2 separate regions of the Homo sapiens genome follow, and region 2 is linked to region 1. The links come from fine-mapping of genetic effects on gene expression. A gene starts in region 1. The other region holds a variant in brackets. All regions are shown on one strand. Distances are between the middles of the regions.

Region 1 (5,370 bases):
GCAGAAGAAAAAAATTTAGAATGAGTAATAAAGGGCCCAAATTTAAAGTCCACAATAAACTTTAAACAAAGATGTTTTCTCTTCTCTTCTCATGTTAGCAAATCACTGTGGAGAAATCCAACCTCCACAAAACTTGTTACTCCGTCATTAACAACAGTGCACTTAAATATAACTATAGATTTCACAAGGGTATTTATTTTAGCCGCAAACATTTCTTACAAGCAACAACAACAAAATGCTCAGAAGCTATACTCAGTAGTCTCAGTGACTGAAAAAGTCCGGCTTTTAACTGCCATCCAATCCAAACAACCCACTTCTTTAGAAAGCTATGCAAAATATTGACCCCTTACTGAATTATTTTACTATTCAACATTAAACTATCTAAAAGAGAAAAGTAATTAATCGCTAAGTTTAGTTAAGCAATTTAGCTGACATAGTAAATATTTACTCTTCACATCTCACAGGAAGTCTTGACAAGCATTTGCTGCTATTCTGCTGGGGGTAGGGGCGGGAGGTGGGGGTGGGAGGCAATTTTTGATAAACAAGTTACAGGGTCCCAGCGAACTGAACATAGCTGGTGTTCGCCACCCCGACCCCCAATTAGGCACCAGATATTTTCCAAGAACAGTAAACACCTTATATAATGAAAGTAAAAAAAAAAAAAGTAGCTTTCTAAACTATGTATCTCCACTAACAAAACAAACAAAAGCCCCTTTAAAAACTACCAAGAGCACGTTTTTTAAAGCTGTGTGTACGTTTTTTACTTATACGTAAGGCCAATCGCAAAAAAAAAACTAAGCAAAGTATATTTACCTTAGCTTTTTAGAGACTGAGTAATCAACTTCCATGATTTTCCCATGCAATTCCACTTTACCTTTAAAACAGAAATTAAAGCACTCAGAACCTTGCTTAGATCAAGCCCGCGGGGGTCTAGGGGGGGCACGCACGGAACTCCACGCTCGGGCTCCGCCTTCGGGCGCCCCCAAGGGGTCTCCTACCCGGATCGAGCTGGGCGAACTTGGTTCCCAGTAGAAAGAAAGGTGGGCGCCCCGTGTCTCGGGACAAGGCGAGGAGGGTGCGAGCCCGGGTCGGACCCCAGGTATAGCCGTGGGTGGCATTACCGGAAAAACAAATTTAATAAAGAGCGGCGCCAATTTGAAAGGATGAGCTCATTTGAAACTCAAGCTGCAGGGCTGGCGCGGCCCCGCTGCTCTCCCGGCCCCCACCTCTCCATTCCGCTAATCCGGGGCCCGAAGGCTCCACCGGGCTCCCCTCCCTGCCCTCTCCTCCCGGTGGCCCCGAGAAAACGAGCCGAAGCCCCCCGGAGTCCGCCGCAGCGACAGCCCTGTCCCTGCCCGCTCCTGGGTGTCACCTTGGCCTCGCCGCCGCCCCGCCCCCACTCCACACGCCGGTGGGGAAGGGGCTCCCGCCGGGCCGGGGTTCGGGGGGCGCCGGCCGGGGCCCGGGGGCCCGCGCGGCTGGGAGCGGAGCGTGTGCTGGGGAGAGTTGGGGAGTGCGCGCGCGCGAGTGTGTGTGTGTGTCGCTCTCCGTCTCCTGTCTGGGCTCCAGCGCGCTCGCGGGCCCCCCGGTCGCCTCTTTCCCGGTTCTCAACCCTGGCCCCCACCGAGTTGAGACAGGGCACCTCGTAAAAAGGTGCTTCTGGCCGAGCGGGAGGCGGGGGGACGGGCGGCGGAAAGCCCCCAGCCCCGAGTTCTTCTCAATAAAATCGGACAAAAAATTCAGAGAAAAATAGGAGCGCTTGAGAGAGCAAGCGAGAGGGGACTGAGGTTCGGGAAAGGACCGAGGGGATGTGCCGTCGTGCGAGGGCTGGGGCTGGGGGAGCCCCGAGATCTCGAAGGGGGTCACCAGGGTGGCGCCGAGGGGGTGCCAAAAGTGGGGGGCCGTGGGGCGAGGTGGGGAGGGGGCTCGAAAGGAGAGTGCGGCTCAGGAGACGCCAGAGGGCGAGAGGTTCTGGGCACGAGGCACTGGAAGAGAGAAGGTCCGGCCGGGGGAGGAGGAAGAGACGCTGGATTTGGGGAAGGGGGGACCCTGACAAAGGGGGTGACAGGAAGGTCAGGGGAGAAGTGAGACAGGGGACGCTCAAAGGGTGGGGGGCGGGGAAGCTCAGAGCAGCCCGGGGCGCCAGGCGAACGAGGGGTGCCCCTAAGGAGCCGGCGAGCCTCGGGAGCCTTCGGAGCGGCACGGGGGGCGCCCCAAGGCTGCGGCCCCGAGGGCGAGGGCAGAGTCCAGAGCTGTGGGGGGAGGGGAGCGGGCCGTCCCAGGAGCGGGCCGGCGGCGAGAGTTGAGGGTCTGGTGCGTGGAAGTGAGCGTGCGGGCGCGGGAGCCGCCGCCGGGCGCCGCCCGCCGGACTCGGCCTCCCTCCCGGCGCCGTCCCGGCCTGAGCGGGGCGAGGCGGGGGGAGGGGGCCGCGCTGAGTGCTCACCCGAGAGGGTCTCGATGGCGCGGATGGCCCAGTTCTGGTCGGGGTAGTCCACGAAGGCGTAGCCGGACTTCAGCAGGACCTGTCCCGCCAGGGGCAGCTTCCTGTCCCCAAAGAGCTGCCGGAGGTCGTCGGCGGTGACGGCGGGGCTCAGGTTCCCGATGTAAAGCTTGTTCATCATCCGTCTCTTCCCCGAGAGCCCGCGGCTCCCCCGGCCCGGTACCCGGCGCTCCTCGCCTCCTCCGCTGCCCTCGTCTCTCCTCCTCCTCCGCCCCCCCTCCCCGCCCTCCGCCCGCCCGCCACCCACCCCCACCCTCAGCCTGGCTCCCCCCACCGCGGCCGGCCCGGCCCGCCCGGGGGCAGAGGCGGAGGCGGGGACTCGGCGCGGCTGCCTCCTCGGGGCAGAGTCCCGGGCCGGGCGGCGGCGCGCGGACAAAGCGCTCTCTCTGCCTCCCTCTCTCTCCCTCTCAAGGCGGTGGCGGGAGGAGGAGCAGCGGCGGGCGGCGGCAGCGCACCCCGCGTGTGTCTGTGTGAGAGTTTGTACGGGCGTGTGCGCAGCCGAGAGGGAGCGAGCGAGCGCCCCCTCCCCGCCCCGCGCCGCTGCGCCCCTCGCCTCGCGCCCACCGCGCTCGGCAGTGGCTGCTCGGGCTCCGGCCCCGCGCCAGGCGGGCGGAAGCGGGTCGCGGCCCCGGGCTGGGGCTCCGGGCGCCGGAACCCCGGGCGGGCGCGGCGCCGAGGCCGGGCGAGCGGCGGGGCGGGGAAGGCGCGCCCCGGGCGCGGGTGGGAGCGCGCGAGGGGGCGACGGGGAGCCGCGGGCGTGGGAGGGAGAGGGGCTGCGAGTGAGCGCGGAGAGGGGTGTGCGCAAGGTGGACCGGATGTGAGTGCGCTGCTGCCAGGGCAAGCGGGAAGGTGTGTCCCGGAGGTGAGAGGCGAGGGCAGGCTGGGAGACAACAACTTTCGCAGCGACTTGGCCGGGGCTGGCGCCCTGCGCGTTCCCGGGCCGTGCGCTCGCTCTGAGACCCGCTCCCCGCCACGCTCTCTGAGGTGACCGAGCGGCGCGTGTGGTCGAAGGATCGCGCGCGGGAGTCGGGACGCCTAGGACCGGGGTTGGCCGGGCCCTCGCGGACCGTGCTCGCGGGGAAGTGGTTCCCGGTCCCGGGCCTCAGTTTCCCGACCGGGGAGGGAAGGCGGAAGGCCAGCGCGGAGTCACGTCCTCTCCGCCCAGACCCCGCGTGTCCGGAACCCCGCGGCAGGCGGCAGCCTGACGTTGGCAGCTGCTCTCTATTCTGGGAAGTGCCGAGGGCTTCCCGGGCGGCGGCGGCGAAAGCCAGGTGGCGGGTGGGGAAACGAACGCCGAGGGGCCAGGGACTGCGGCGAGGCCGGAGCGCTGGGGTCAGCGGCCGGGGGACGGATGGTCGCCGCCCGGCTGCGCGGCCGGTTCAGCTCCAAAGCCAGGGTGGTGGGAGGCGAGGGTGGCTGGAAGCGGAGGAGCGCAGGCTGTGTAGGAGTTCCCCGAGCACTGGGAAGGGCCCGGAGAGGAAAGAGGTCCTTCCAAGCGGAGGAAACAACGTGACCGACGGAAGAGGCAGGGTTGGGATGAGAGCAGGCTGGAGCCGAGGGGCTCGGGCAGGAGCCAGACAGGCTAGAGCGGGCTGCAAGTTCCGGGGCCCGGCTGGAAGCCTGATGGTTAGAGCCTGGTCCCAGCCAGGAAATGAAATTCTACAGGAGGGAGAAGAATGGCGGGATTCAGAGGTGAGGAGGCAGAAGAAGATTCCAAGCTCTGGACCTCTGGGGGCCACTGGGAGAGTTGAAGGTTTGATCGCGGATATGTTGGGTTTTGTGAAGGCGTTGGGGCGCGGGTGCGGGGAGTGTCCTTGGGTGGAGAAGTCACGAATGTAGGAATGGAACAAGTTCGGGTCTCCTGACTGGGTCGTGAAGTAGTATTGTCTTTCCCAAGCTTTCCTGTTGATGAGCGGCGTGGAGAGAATGGGGCTTGCTGGATTTTGTATTTTCCGCAAGTACTCCCAGGTGATTCTGGTCTGGTAAACACTGTTGGAGTGGAAGGCCTATCTGCCCCGGACTCAGACCTTCTCTCTGCCCCCATCTTTGTGCCCTGAGATGTTCCAGCATTCTCGAGCCTAAGTTTCTTCATCTATAAGGAGATAAAATAACCAGTCCTCGCAGGGCTGTTGTGAGGGCTACAAGAAGGATAACTGCCTAGCGTGTTGAGACATGGGTGGTCAGACACTTAATGCCTGTTTCTCTTCTTTCCCCCAGGAATTCATGAACTTTTAAAATACTTTATTCTACAGAAGGAGATCTTCTTAACTAATTAGGTATCCAGAGGAGAAAGTAATGAATCCATTTTCACCTAGATATTTGCAGTTATTTGAATTCTGGCTTTTGTCTCAAGTATTCACATATTTTTTTCTCTCTCTAGAAAAAGAATCGGATTTTACTGCTCCAGGAGTTGAGAATGAACTTGGTTACTAATCCCCAAAGTAATAGATAAACTAGGTGTGGATGCTTCTTTACTAAATTGTATCAGAGAATCACAAATGAACATGACTTGTGCATGCATAAACCTCAGCAGACTGAACTAACCATCTTTAGATTATTTACACATGTGCTCCTAATTGATATGGTCACCTTTATATTATAGGACAGCATATTTGCTTATTATTCACAGGTACATGTAAAGGAGAAACGAGAGTGGCAGGAATAGTTGGCCTCATTCCTCTCCAACAGGTCAGAAAAACTTGTTGTTGTTGTTGTTGTTGTGTAGCATTTTAGATACATCAATTATTTGGTCTTACTGTGAGACGAAAAACACATTAGACAATGTACAGATTCTTGGCAGAGGTGGTGTATCAGTCCATTTTCATACTGCTCTGAAGAAATGCCCAAGACTGGGTAATTTATAAAGAAAA
Region 2 (5,370 bases), 23 kb before region 1:
AGACCATCCTGGCTAACACGGTGAAACCCCGTCTCTACTAAAAAAATACAAAAAAAATTAGCTGGGCGTGGTGGCGGGTGACTGTAGTCCCAGCTACTCGGGAGGCTGAGGCAGGAGAATTGCTTGAACCCAGGAGGCAGAGCTTGCAGTGAGCTGAGATTGCACAACTGCACTCCAGCCTGGGAGACAGAGCGAGACTCCGTCTCAAAAAAAAAAAAAAAGTCAGGAAACAACAGATGCTGGAGAGGATGTGGAGAAATAGGAACACTTTTACACTGTTGGTGGGAGTGTAAATTAGTTCAACCATTGTGGAAGACAGTGTAGCAATTCCTCAAGGATCTAGAACTAGAAATGCCATTTGACCCAGCAATCCCATTACTGGGTATATACCCAAAGGATTATAAATCATGCTACTATAAAGGCACATGCACACGTATCTTTACTGTGGCACTATTCACAATAGCAAAGACTTGGAACCAACCCAAATGTCCATCAATGATAGACTGGATTAAGAAAATGTGGCACATATACACCATGGAATACTATGCAACCATAAAAAGAATGAGTCCATGTCCTTTGCAGGGACATGGATGAAGCTGGAAACCATCACTCTCAGTAAACTATCACTAGGAGAGAAAACCAAACACTGCATGTTCTCACTCATAGGTGGGAAATGAACAATGAGAACACTTGGACACAAAGCGGGGAACGTCATAGACCGGGGCCTGTCGGAGAGTGGGGGACTGGGGGAGGTATAGCATTAGGAGAAACACCTAATGTAAATGACAAGTTGATGGGTTCAGCAAACCAACATATGGCACATGTATACCCATGTAACAAACCTGCACATTGTGCACATGTACCCTAGAAGTATAATAATAAAATACAATAATAAAAATAAAAAAAAGTACTTGCTGATGTCGTGGCTCACACCTGTAATCCCTGCACTTTGCAAGGCTGAGGCAAGGATCATTTGAGGTCAGGAGTTCAAGACCAGCCTGGCCAATATGGTGAAATCCCATCTTTACCAAAAATACAAAACTTGGCCAGGCATAGTGGCACATGCCTATAATCCCAGCTACTCAGGAGGTTGAGGCCAGAGAATCACTTGAACCCAGGAGGCGGAGGTTGCAGTGAGCTGAGAAGTTGCCACTTGGTGACTGAGCCAAAAAAAAAGAAAGAAAGAAAGAAAGAAAGTACTTGCTGAATACCTGGGAGTAAATGATAAAAGAAATCTGGAAGGTAGGACATAGGCATGTGCAAAGATTTCATGACTAAAACACCAAAAGCAATCGTAACAAAAGCCAAATTTGACAAATGGGATCTAATTAAAGAGCTTCTGCACAGCAAAGGAAACGATCATCAGAGTGAACAGGCAATCTACAGAATGGGAGAAAAATTTTGCAATCTAACCACCTGACAAAGGTCTAATATCCAGAATCTACAAGGAACTTAAACAAACTTATAAGAAAAAAAAACAACTCCATAAAAGAGTGGGTGAAGGATATGAACAGACACTTCTCAAAAGAAGACATTCATGCAGCCAACAAACATATGAAAAAAAGCTCATCATCACGGGTCATTAAAGAAATGCAAATCAAAACCACAATGAGATACCATATCAAGGCAGTTAGAATAGCGATTATTAAAAAGTCAGGAAACAGCTGGGCACGGTGGCTCACGCCAGTAATCCCAGCACTTTGGGAGGCCGAGGCAGGTGGATCACTTGAGGTCAGGAGTTCAAGACCAGCCTAACCAACATGGAGAAACCCCGTCTCTACTAAAAATACAAAATTAGCCAGGCGTGGTGGCACATGCCTGTAATCCCAGCTACTCAGGAGGCTGAGGCAGGAGAATTGCTTGAACCCAGGAGGCGGAGGTTGTGGTGAGCCGAGATGGCGTCATTGCACCCCAGCCTGGGCAACAAGAGCAAAACTCCATCTCAAAAAAAAAAAAAAAAAAAAAGTCAGGAAACAACAGATGCTGGCGAGGCTGTGGAGAAATAGGAACACTTTTACGCTGTTGGGAGTGCAAATTAGTTCAACTATTGTGGAAGACAGTGTGGCAATGCCTCAAGGATCTAGAACCAGAAATACCATTTGACCCAGCAATCCCATTACTGAGTGTATACCCAAAGGATTATAAATCATGCTACTATAAACACATGCACACTTATGTTTACTGCAGCACTATTTACAACAGCAAAGACTTGGAACCAACCCAAATGCCCATCAATGATAGACTGGATAAAGAAAATGTGGCACACATACAGCATGGAATACTATGTAGCCATAAAAAGAGTGAGTTCATATCCTTTGCAGGGACATGGATGAAGCTGGAAGCCATCATTCTCGGCAAACTAACACAGGACCAGAAAACCAAACACCACCTGTTCTCACTCATAAGTGGGAGTTGAATGAGAACACGTGGACACAGGGAGGGGACCATCACACACCAGGGCCTGTCAAGCAGTAGGGGGCAAGGGGAGGGAGAGCATTAAGACAAATACCTAATCCATGTGGGGATTAAAACCTAGATGACGGGTTGATAGGTGCAGCAAACCACCATGGCACATGTATACCTATGTAACAAACCTGCATGTTCTGCACATGTATCCCAGAACTTAAAAT[T/C]AGAAAAAAAAAAGAAATCTGGAAGGTAAACCTAATGCATCCCAGAGGAGCACACAGGTAGAGAGGTTCTGATCACTAGTCCTTTGCTAAGTAGCATCCTCATTCCAGCTTAACACATGAAGTGTTCTTGACTAACCAAGACATGTTCTTGACTAATTACGGTAATACCTAAGGCTGGTGTTGGAATGGTAAGGTGGAAAAGAAGCAGTTTGCCCAAGGTTTCTTTCTGCAAATTTGGAAATAACAGAAGATTCCTCAGAGCCGAGTTCATGAATGCAGGGACAGAGGGTTGGCCTCTTCTGTAACCTGTACTCTAGCTCCACTCTGGCTAATGCATCGTAGTGGGTGCTGAAGTCATGCTCTTCCAAGTTGAAATAATTTGTTGAATTCATTACTGGGTCTTGAGAACATTTTTTAAATTATTCACACATAATTTAGCATTCAGCAATTAATACAGCTGAGGAAACTGAGAGCTGGTAGGCAGTTAATTTCAAAACCCAATGCAGCATTACCAACTAGGTATAAAATTTCTCTTACACACCCACCAGCCAGCCAAAGCACCATCAAGAAAGTTTAGGTCTCTAAAAACCCTTGAGAGAGAAAATATTCAGAAGAAAAAGCTTTTCTCAAGATGAGAACATCCACAAACACTTTCCTGTTGTTAGAAAGACTTAAATAAATGCAGAAGTGCTGAGAGTAGCCTTTGGAGTGCTAATGTAGCAGGGGTAAGCCACCCGCCCGGCCAGTTATCCTATTTCTGACAAATGTAGTTTGCTAGACTCAATCTCAGAGGTTACCCACAGCACTTCTTTTTAAACTAAAATGTATCTCAATTTTATTTTTAGAGGGCTGAATGAAATGTCAAGTGATCAAACATTAAAATAGCCCCAAATCAGGCTGGGCGTGGTGGCTCACGCCTGTAATCCCAGCACTTTGAGGCCTAGGCAGGTGGATTGCTTGAGGTCAGGAGTTCAAGACCAGCCTAGCTAACATGGTGAAACCCTGTCTCTAATAAAAATACAAAAAGTAGCCGGGTGTGGTGGCAGGTGCCTGTAATACCAGCTACTTAGGAGGCTGAGGCAGGATAATCACTTGAACCTGGGAGGCAGAGGTTGCAGTGAGCCGAGATCATGCTACTGCACTCCAGTCTGGACAGCAGAGCAAGACTCCATCTCAAAAAAATAAACAAAATAAAATAGCCCTAAATTACAGTATTACTGGTTACTGGATTCTTCCTGGTAAATATTTCCCAAATAAAAGTACTGAAAAAAGAAGTATTTCCATTTTCTTTAATTGTAAGTATTCTGATCAAAGTTATTTTCACTTTCTGTTGATTAAAGAATACTGTATTGCCATGATTTAAATTAAACGTTTTTGAATGGATGGATTTTTTAACCACTTTCTGTCACATGAAAGTAATTAAGACATCATCCTAACTTCTTCTAGCATAGGGTGGCACCCAGATATTTGTGTCTCAATGGCACCAGAAACCTAAAATGAATCAAGATTGTAGTTCACTGAATAGTGAAATATTATTAATTCTAATTGTAATAGGACAGAACTGAAATTAATCTTTCCTTTAAAGGGGGGTAGGGGTACTCATTCAACAAAGGAATCAATATAAACAAGATCATAAAAGGGAAATAAGCTATTTAAACACATTTCAGGCTGGACGCAGTGGCTCATGCCTGTAATCCCAGCACTTTAGGAGGCCGAGGCGGGTGGATCACCTGAGGTCAGGAGTTTGAGACCAGCCTGGCCAACATGGTGAAACCCTATCTCTACTAAAAGTACAAAAATTGGCCAGGTGCAGCGGCTCACGCCTATAATCCCAGCACTTTGGGAGGCTGAGGCGGGTGGATCACGAGGTCAGGAGCTCAAGACCAGCCTGGCTGAGATGGTGAAACCCCGTGTCTACTAAAAATACAAAAATTAGCCAGGCGTGGTGGCATGTGCCTGTAATCCCAGCTACTCGGGAGACTGAGGCAGAGAATCACTTGAACCCAGGAGGCAGAGGTTGCGGTGAGCCGAGATGGCGCCATTGTACTCCAGCCTGGACAACAGAGCAAGACTACGTCTCAAAAAAAAAAAAAAAAAAATACAAAAATTAGCCAGGTGTGGTGGTGCACGCCTGTAATCCCAGCTACTCGGGAGGCTGAGGCAGGAGAATTGCTTGAACCCGGGAGGCAGAGGTTGCAGTGAGCTGAGATCGCGCCACTGCACTCCAGCCTAGGCGACAAGAGCGAGACTTTGTCTCAAACAAAAAAAAAACAAAAAAACACAGATTTCAGAAGTATTGATATATAACTGATAAGCTGAATATAAGTCATTTTTTCTATTCAATGAGAAGGTCCAGTAGGATTGTTTTTTAGTAACATTTTGTTAGTTTCCTCAGGTTACAATATTTAATTGAAAACAATATAAATTTTTTAAAATCTGCCCATTCAGGCATTCTACTAATTATCACTGCTCTTCCCTTTACCGCAACTAGCTTGAATCAATGAGGCCTCAATGTATTTAATTACAATCATAGGCCAGGCACGGTGGCTCACGCCTGTAATCCCAGCACTTTGGGAGGCGGAGGTGGGCGGATCATGAGGTCAGGACATCGAGACCATCCTGGCTAACACAGTGAAACCCCGTCTCTACCAAAAATATAAAAAAAAATTAGCTGGGAGTGGGTGGCGGGTGCCTGTAGTCCCAGCTACTCGGGAGGCTGAGGCAGGAGAATGGCGCAAAC

The links.
Region 2: its variant is fine-mapped to the expression of IGF2BP2 in whole blood (INTERVAL, PIP 0.92).

What each region holds. Positions count from the first base shown.
Region 1 is chr3:185,822,340-185,827,709 of GRCh38, forward strand. IGF2BP2 (insulin like growth factor 2 mRNA binding protein 2) reads right to left here and starts at 2,703. Exons shown (of 16, transcript NM_006548.6): 1 at 2,444-2,703; 2 at 814-874. The coding sequence starts at 2,621. RefSeq lists an enhancer at 706-1,569 and silencers at 2,509-2,739, 2,751-3,020, 3,431-3,520.
Region 2 is chr3:185,799,546-185,804,915 of GRCh38, forward strand. All of the region lies in intron 2 of IGF2BP2 (insulin like growth factor 2 mRNA binding protein 2), which reads right to left. Among named protein-coding and RNA genes, the nearest start is that of IGF2BP2, 23 kb to the right of the region's middle. RefSeq lists enhancers at 1-425, 3,063-3,564. The variant T/C (reference allele first, on the strand shown) is at 2,631.